Linked DNA regions of Homo sapiens: region 1 is linked to region 2. Evidence: fine-mapped expression QTL. Tissue or cell type: esophagus mucosa. Region 2 holds a variant in brackets; the other region holds the start of a gene. All regions are shown on one strand. Distances are between the middles of the regions.

Evidence for each region. PIP is the estimated chance that this variant, and not a neighbour inherited with it, causes the effect.
Region 1: it holds the start of F2RL1, and the variant in region 2 is fine-mapped to the expression of F2RL1 in esophagus mucosa (GTEx, PIP 0.98).

What each region holds. Positions count from the first base shown.
Region 1 is chr5:76,816,652-76,820,890 of GRCh38, reverse strand. It overlaps F2RL1 (F2R like trypsin receptor 1), which reads right to left and starts at 1,861. Exons shown (of 2, transcript NM_005242.6): 1 at 1,627-1,861. The coding sequence starts at 1,708. RefSeq lists enhancers at 910-1,527, 1,528-2,145 and a silencer at 1,833-2,127.
Region 2 is chr5:76,843,693-76,847,931 of GRCh38, reverse strand. No RefSeq gene overlaps it. Among named protein-coding and RNA genes, the nearest start is that of S100Z, 4.2 kb to the left of the region's middle. The variant C/T (reference allele first, on the strand shown) is at 1,839.

The DNA of each region.
Region 1 (4,239 bases), 27 kb after region 2:
AAAGTTACTTTGCAAGGGAATAAAAGTATGGTGGGGGGAGGATGAGGAACAAGGTGCAATATTAAGTGGCTATAGTTAACAAGTAACCTGATTTTTCCTTATTGTTAAATCAAGTTCGCCTTATAATCCAGGGATCTCCCAATCCCCCAAGAGTAGTAAACAAGAACAAGACAAATAATCGGGGCATGCTTCCTACAGGGATCTCTGAATCATAAAGATGTTGAATCAGCTATACCAACATGTATTTTTTTAAAGTTTGCACATACTAACCTTTGCTCCTGAATTTTAAGTTTCCAACTTTAAAGGACATAGAGGAGAGGTGTCCATTACAGTTTTCAATACTTCCTGGAACTAAATGCCTTTATTCTGATGCTGATTAAGAAAAAAAAATATACCAGCGGTGCACAGTTTTCAAGCTTACACCATTAACACCCTTTTCCCTAACTGCAGAGGGAAAAGAATCACATTCTTCCATCTAATTCCAACCCACTGTGACTTGCTCTTTTACTTCGTCTTTATGAAGAGGAGGATAAAAGTGAGAAATGCGCATTTCTGAGGGAAATTAAAAGCTCCCTTTGCTACCCAGGCTGCCCCAAACAGAGGGGCCTCGGTTAGGATCACAGTGGCGCGATCGCAGGTCAAACATCCCCCACGGCCACAGCGAGGCCTGCTGGGCCCGGAAGAACACACTCCCAGCAATACAAGTTCGAGCACACCCGGAGCAGCACATCCAAGGAACGCGACGGCCGGGCGCAAGTGCTGCTCTGTTCCCAGGCCAGCCAGCCTCTGGCCTGCAGACCTGGGTGGCAGCCAGTGGCCGCTCCGGGTGGCACACTAGGAAAGTCCCGGAACCCCAGGCCCAGAGGGTCAACTGGTCAAATATAAGGCAGGGTCCAAAAAGTTCCGCTCGTAAATCCTCGTGGCGCCCAACGGGCCTGAGCGCTCATTACCACCAGAACCCATCAGGGACCGGCCCTGACTTTCATACCCCGGGCCTTCCACTGTGGGTGCCAGGAGCAGCGGGACCCGGGTGGGTCTCGAACGCAGGGGCCAGAACCCGAAGAAAGGCTTCCAGCAGTTGGAGAGGGACGCAAAAAACAACCTAGAAGGCTCCCGGGCCGCGGGTTCCCACCCACTCCGCCCTGCCCTGCGCAATCAGCTCGCTAACCCCACCGGCCCCGCGGGGCCAGCGGAGGAAGTCTCCGGAGTTGGCAAAAAGCTCTTAATGACTTAGTGTTTACAAAGCAACCAAGCCCGGGGAGGGGACTAGGTCCTCTGCGTACCCTTTAGACACAGCTACTCCTTCCTTCCCTCCCTTTCCCCGAACCCACGCTGGGGCCTGGAGGTGCCCAGCATGACAGCCTCTACGGGAAGTGGGGTCTTTGGGGAAATCTCTGCCTCTGCCCGGCTCCGCTGACTTCAGCTGCTCCCGCATGTCCCACCTGGGTGCCTCCTTGGCGCAGAGACCTCACATCAAAGCCACCAAGGGGAGGCTAAGGGATTCGTAGAGATGGGTGCCGGCAGCAGAACAGCCTTCGCACACCTGCCCGGATCCCACCGTCTGCCCAGCGTGCCCAGGACCCCAGCTCCTCAGAGATAAGAGCCCTCCTTGGCCAGGTTTCTCACCTTGGATGGTGCCACTGCAGGAGAGAGAGGCTGCTAGCAGGATGGCGGCCCCCAGCAGCCACGCCGCGCTGGGGCTCCGCATCCTCCTGGAAGCCCCGACGCCGGGCGCGCGGGGAATCCGCCGCCGCCGATTCGAAACTCAGAGCTCCACTGGACGCACCGAGAGAAAGTCAGCCTCTCACCTGCCCCGAATCGGAGCCTCTGCTGCGCGCCTCCCCAGGGCGGGTTAGGTTTCAGGGAAACCGAAGGAGCAGCGTACTCACCTGCGGGAGGCCACGCCCCGGGACCGGAACGCGCGCCCTGGTCCCGCCCCCGGCCCCCTTCCCTGCGCAGCTGCGCCCTCCGCTTCCCGGACTCGCGCCAGGTCCCTTAGACTGCGGGAGCCGCCTGCGGGCGGGGTTGAGCGCATGAGGTGTCTGCTTTGGAATGCAAATAGCAGGAGCGCTGGGACCACGGGTTAATCCCTGCCTAGGCTATACCGCGAACTACCTTTAATCTTTACTTACTCCTAGAGAAGCGGGTCGTCGGTCTCCCTTGCCTTTCCTGACTGTGGGAAAGCCACGATTCGTACTCACTGCAATTGTGGTTGGTAACTGATACAGACAGGGCTTCCCGGTGCGGTGGACCCTGCAGGAGGAGGGATGCGTTTTTTATTGTAGAGGCAGGTGGGCAACTGCGGACATCACGAAAGCGGTGGGGAGCACAAGAGGCGGGGCGGGAAAGAAGACATGGAATGGCTACTTTCAGCGCCAAGTGCCAAAGCTTTAGAGAATTATCTTGCTTAATCCCCATAACAACCAGCGCAATAAGTATGATTATTCTTCCCATTTTACAGACGAGGAAAGTGAGCTTAGAAAGACCAGATAAATTGGCCAGAGTTACACGACTTATAAACACAGTGTATAAATGTTTATCACATTTCAACTCCAGTATAAGACTATCACTGTCTTCTATTCATCGCTGCACTATAAATGCGTCCACCAGGGCTCCTCTGCATTGGGATCCCATAGGCTAAATAAATACAAAAGCAGATAGAAGGGGTGGGAGAAGAGAAGTGTGGGGTTGGGGATGAGTGCATGAGGGTTGGCATCATATTGGTAATGTCTTACTTTTTGTTTTTGAGACGGAGTCTCGCTCTGTCTCCCAGGCTGGAGTGCAGTGGCGTGATCTCGGCTCACTGCAAACTTTGTCTCCTGGGTTCAAGCAATTCTCTGGCCGCAGCCTCCCGAGTAGCTGGAGTTACAGGCGTGCACCACATCTGGCTAATTTTTGTATTTTTAGTAGAGGCGGGGTTTCACCATGTTGGTCTGGCTAGTCTCGAACTCCTGACCTCGTGATCAGCCCACCTCCGCCTCCCAAAGTGCTGCGATTACAGGCGTGAGCCACCGCACCCAGCATGTCTTACTTTTTATTTGCTTTTTAAAAGATTGAATAAAACAAAGTCTACTGTTACCCATTTAAACTATTGGTACCAGAAGAGCACAGAAGAGAGACATAGGTATTTTCAAATATTTAAAGGATTCGCTTGTAGAAGAGGATTTAGATGTGTTTTGAGTTGCTCCAGAGAGCAAAAATTGGTGGAAGCCACAGTGGGGTTTAATTTCAGCTCAATGTATAAAGAAATTTTCTTTATTTTTTATTTTAATTTCTATTAGAAAATAGAAGTGGGGTCTCCCTATCTTGTCCAGTCTGGTCTGGAACTCCTGGCTTCATGTGATCCTCCCCACTCAGCCTCCCAAAGTGCTGGGATTACAGGAATGAGCCACCACACCCGGACAGGCTTCTCCCCTTGTTGACATCTGTGTGATCCCAAGTTTACTTATCCTCTCTAAGCTTTCTTATAATATATATATATATACACACACACGTGGTTTAAAGGTTTATAGGTGTCTGTCTGAGGATAAAATAGTGACTAGTGACTGGGTTTGATACATGGTAGAAGCTCAATAAATATTTTTTGTTTATTTCCTTTCTCTGAGGAGTCTTCATACTCCACCTGCACCCCAGCTCTCACCTCAGCCCATGCCCACTTTTCCTCCCAGGAAAAGCTGACTTCTAGAAGCAGAACAGGAACCTTTGACATCCTGAACAGCGGACAGCTCTCCTGATAGGGATCAGGCCATTCCTGAAGGTCCCTCCCCAGGGGAGATAACTGATTCCTAAGATGTCCCTTCAAACTTTTCAAGCATCCATTTCCTCATCTGTAGCTTATTAATATTACATCTATCATCTGGGAATGATACTAGTACCTCTCTCGTAGGGTGGTTGTGAGGATTCACTTTGCTAAATGTCCATAAAGCACTTCTTAGTACCGTTTCTGGTATATAGTAAGCACCTAAGAAATGGGAACTGCTATAGAATGACTGCCTTTAAGGTGGAATCTTCCTCTTTCAGAGAACAATACATCAGGGTCCAGCTGCTTTCGATTTAAATTTTCACTGTATTTTATGGGAATATGCCTTGAATCATCACAATTTCCAATAAAAGACTTTATTGAACAATGCTATGAGTTAATTATCTCAAAAATGTGGTTTCTTCCCCCAGCCTGACTAAATGAACTAAACTCACTTGAGTCAGTTTGCAGGTGTTTTTCTGTAATTTTGGGAGTATAGT
Region 2 (4,239 bases):
TTAATTAATTAATTAATTAATTACTAGTCTTTCCCACCTGAAAGTGAAAACTAAGAAGGTCCAAACTGTAGGATTATAGAATGACGGATGTCTGGGGAGATCAGAACAAATCTGCGGAAGAAAACACATGTAATCTGTCTGCATTGCCAGTTTTGGGTGGTGATTCCTGTCCAAGTGTAGCTCCCAAGCACAAGACTGTGGTCTAGGGTCCTGTTCTTCCCTATCTTTAGGAGAACATTAAGATCACCATGAGGCAGGCACCACATAAGAGGGCACAGTGATAAGAATTTTAGCATTCCTCGTTGTTCCTGCTAAGTGCTTGTGAACAGTTGTATAACCAGAGTTCTCGATCGGCAGAGCCTTTTCATTTCCTCTAATATGCTTTCACACTTTCCAGTTCTGGATGCAATCAGCAAAATCCAGACTATGGGGAAAATCTACAAACAACCTGGTTTCTTCAACAAGTAAGTAGCAAGTGGTGAGGGTGGAGATAAATTAAGAGATTTAAAAGTCATCAACCAATTGCAATGTCTGAGCTTTATTTAGATTCTGATTTTTTAAAAAAAGAAACCACTTATGATAATTGAGATGAGTAGAAATTTGAACACTGACAGGATATCTGATATTAAGAAATTTTTTGAGGTATGATTTTTAAATTTCTTGTCTTAGACACTGAAACATTTACGAGTGAAATAATATGATTCCTGAGATTTGCTTCAGAATAAACGGGATGGGGAGGAGGATGGGGCAGAATTGACCAAAGGTTGATGGATATTGGGCCTGAGTGATGGAGACATAGAGTTTCCCTATACAATCCTAATTCTGTATGGGTATAAAATCCTCCATAATAAAGTTTTTAGGGCTGGGCGCAGTGGCTCACACCTGTAATCCCAGCACTTTGGGAGGCCGAGGTGGGCGGATCACTTGAGGTCAGGAATTCTAGAGCAGCCTGGCCAACATGGTGAAACCCAGTCTTTACCAAAAATACAAAAATTAGCCAGGCGTGGTGGTGGGCGCCTGTAATCCCAGCTACTTGGGAGGATAAGGCAGGAGAATCGCTTGAACCCAGGAGGCCGAGGTTGCAGTGAGCCAAGATGGCACCACTGCACTCCAGCCTGGGAGACAGAGCAAGATTCTCTCTCAGAAAAATACATAAATAAATAAAATAAAATAAACAAACAAACATAAAGTTTTTAGGCTGGGCACCGTGGCCTATGCCTCTAATGCCAGCACTTTGGGAGAGCGAGGTAGGTGGATCACTTGAGGTCAGGAGTTCAAGACCAGCCTGGCCAACATGGTGAAACCCCGTCTCTACTAAAAATACAAAAATTAGCCAGGTGTGGTAGCGGAAACCTGTAATCCCAGCTACTAGGGAAGCTGAGGCAGGAGAATTACTTGAACTCAGGAGGCAGAGGCTGCAGTGAACCAAGATCATACCACTGCACTCCAGCCTGGGCAACAGAGCGAGATTCTGTCTCAAAAAAAAAAACACAGTTTTTAAAAAGATTAAAAAAAAAGAATTTCAGTTTTAATGGACAGAAATGGTCACTAGAATAAACACCATCATTTCCCTCCCTGTGCTGCAATTTTTTAAGCCATAAATTCTGATAAATCTGTTATATTTTTAACAAAGTCTCCCATTTACACAAATCTCTGGTTAAAGAAAAAAGTCTGACTTCCACTGGTAAGAACTAGACACAGTTCCCCTGCAAGAGCCCAGGTGGCCTCTGAAAGAGTTCACAACATAAGGCTTGGCTAAAACTGCTTTCTCGGGATTAGGTAATTGAGTCTACCCGATGGTACATAGAAGCTATAATTAAACGCTTTCCATGGGTTTG[C/T]CATTCACCCCAGGCTACATGGTGGAGCTGAGGTGAGGAACTCAGACCTGAGCCAGATCCAGCAGTGTTGAGAGTTAATCCCTCATATGCAGGTGAGCTGGCTAGGGCCCAGAGCTGGGACTCCAGGCTCCTGCTGTAGTGGCTGCTGCCATGCCCTCATGTTCTCCAAAAAAGAATGATAGAAAACTCATCAGAGCAAAGGATGTTCCACACGGCACAGAAGTTTTCTGCAGCCCACCTAGAAGAATAGCTTAGGTTTCCTCTCAGAGCTAATACAAAGAGAAATGGGACCAACTTCCCGCAAGGCCGTACCTTTTGAGGGTCACTGCCTTGGTGGTGAGGAATAGCAGGGGGAAAATATGCCTAAAATACAAAGTAAATTGCCGAGACCAGCTCAGTCAAGGAGACCCTAACCCAGTGGCACTAGAGGAATTAAAGACACACACACAGAAATATAGAGGTGTGAAGTGGGAAATCAGGGGTCTCACAGCCTTCAGAGCTGAGAGCCCCGAACAGAGATTTACCCACGTATTTATTAACAGCAAGCCAGTCATTAACATTGTTTCTATAGATATTCGATTAACTAAAAGTATCCCTTATGGGAAATGGGATTAACTAAAAGTATCCCTTATGGGACACGAAGGGATGGGCTGAAATAAAGGGGTGGGTCTGGCTAGTTATCTGCAGCAGGAGCATGTCCTTAAGGCACTGATCGCTCAGGCTATTGTTTGTGGTTTAAGAACGCCTTTAAGCAGTTTTCCGCCCTGGGAGGGCCAGGTGTTCCTTGCACTCATTCCAGTAAACTCACAACCTTCCATCGTGGGCGTTATGGCCAGCATGAACATGTCACAGTGCTGCAGAGATTTTGTTTATGGCCAGTTTTGGAGCCAGTTTATGGCCAGATTTTGGGGGACCTGTTCCCAACAGTAAATAAAGGAAGAAAGCAAAGCTCTATTTCTTCCTAGATGCTTATGGTCCTGCATTATCATTACACTCAAAATTTGTGAAGTTCAGACTGGCAAATAAAAGACCATGAAAATGTGGTGTTTACAACACTCTAGATAAACAGACACACATTTTTGGCAAGTGTGTAACTGGTGCAACACCTTAGGAGGGCAACTTACCACAATCAAAATTACATGTATCCTTTGACCCAGAAGTTCCACTTCTTATTTTTTTATTTTTATTTTTGGACAGAGTCTCTCTCTGTTGCCCAGGCTGGAGTGCAGTGGTGCAATCACAGCTCACTACAGCCTTTAACTCCTGGGCTCAAGCGATCGTCCTGCCTCAGCCTCCCAAGTAGCTGAGACAATATGTTTACAGCACCTCCCCTGGCTACTTTTGTTGTTGTTATTGTGCGATAGGGTCTTGCCACATTGCCCAGGCTGGCCTTGAACTCCTGGGCTCAAGAGATCCTTCCACCTTCACTTATAGAAATACAATACATGCAAAGACACACTGTCTCCCTCTCTGCTGAATGACTCTCATTGCCTTTCTTGCCTCCGCATTCCCCTGCTCCCTTTCACAATTAAAATTGCTGTAAGGGATTGTCACTGTCATTGTGTGGACTTCCTTCCTTCTAATTCTTTCTTGAACACACTATTCTGGCTTCCTTTCCCCATCACATCACTGAGAGGGTGGTCTTGCCAAGGTCACCAACATTCTCCAAGGGCAAGCTCAGGTAGTCACTCCTCTGTTCATATCTCACTTGGCTTCTTAGTAATTTTCACCATGATTGATTACTCTGTCCTTTATGCCCTTGGCTTTCCTGACAGCATATTTGCTGGACTTTCTTCTTGCCATAGTGGCTGGTCCTTCTCAGTGTCTCTTACTGGCCCTTCCTCTGCTCAAAAGAGTCTACATGCTGAAGGCCTCTGTCCAGGGCCCTCTTTTCTTCATCTATATTCTCTCCACTAGGTGTCAGAGACATTTGAACCAGAGCAACCCTTGAATAGGAGCTGGGTAAAATAAGGCTGAACACTACTGGGCTGCATTCCCAGACAGGCACTCTAAGTCACAAGATGAGGTAGGAGGTCAGCACAAGATACAGGTCATGGCCTGGTGTGGTGGCTCACACCTGTAATCCCAGCACTCTGGGAGGCCGAGGCGGGTGGATCACCTGAGGTCAGGAGTTCGAGACCAGCCTGACCAACATGGCAAAACCCCGTCTCTACTAAAAATACAAAAAAATTGCCGGGTGTGGTGATGCATGCCTGTAATTCCAGCTACTCAGGAGGCTGAGGCAGGAGAATGGCTTGAACCAGGAGGTGGAGGTTGCAGTGAGCCGAAATCATGCCACTGCACTCCAGCCTGGGCAAAAAGAACGAAACTCCATCTCAAAAAAAAAAAAAAAAGATACAGGTCATAAAGACCTTACTGATAAAACAGTTTGCAGTGAAGA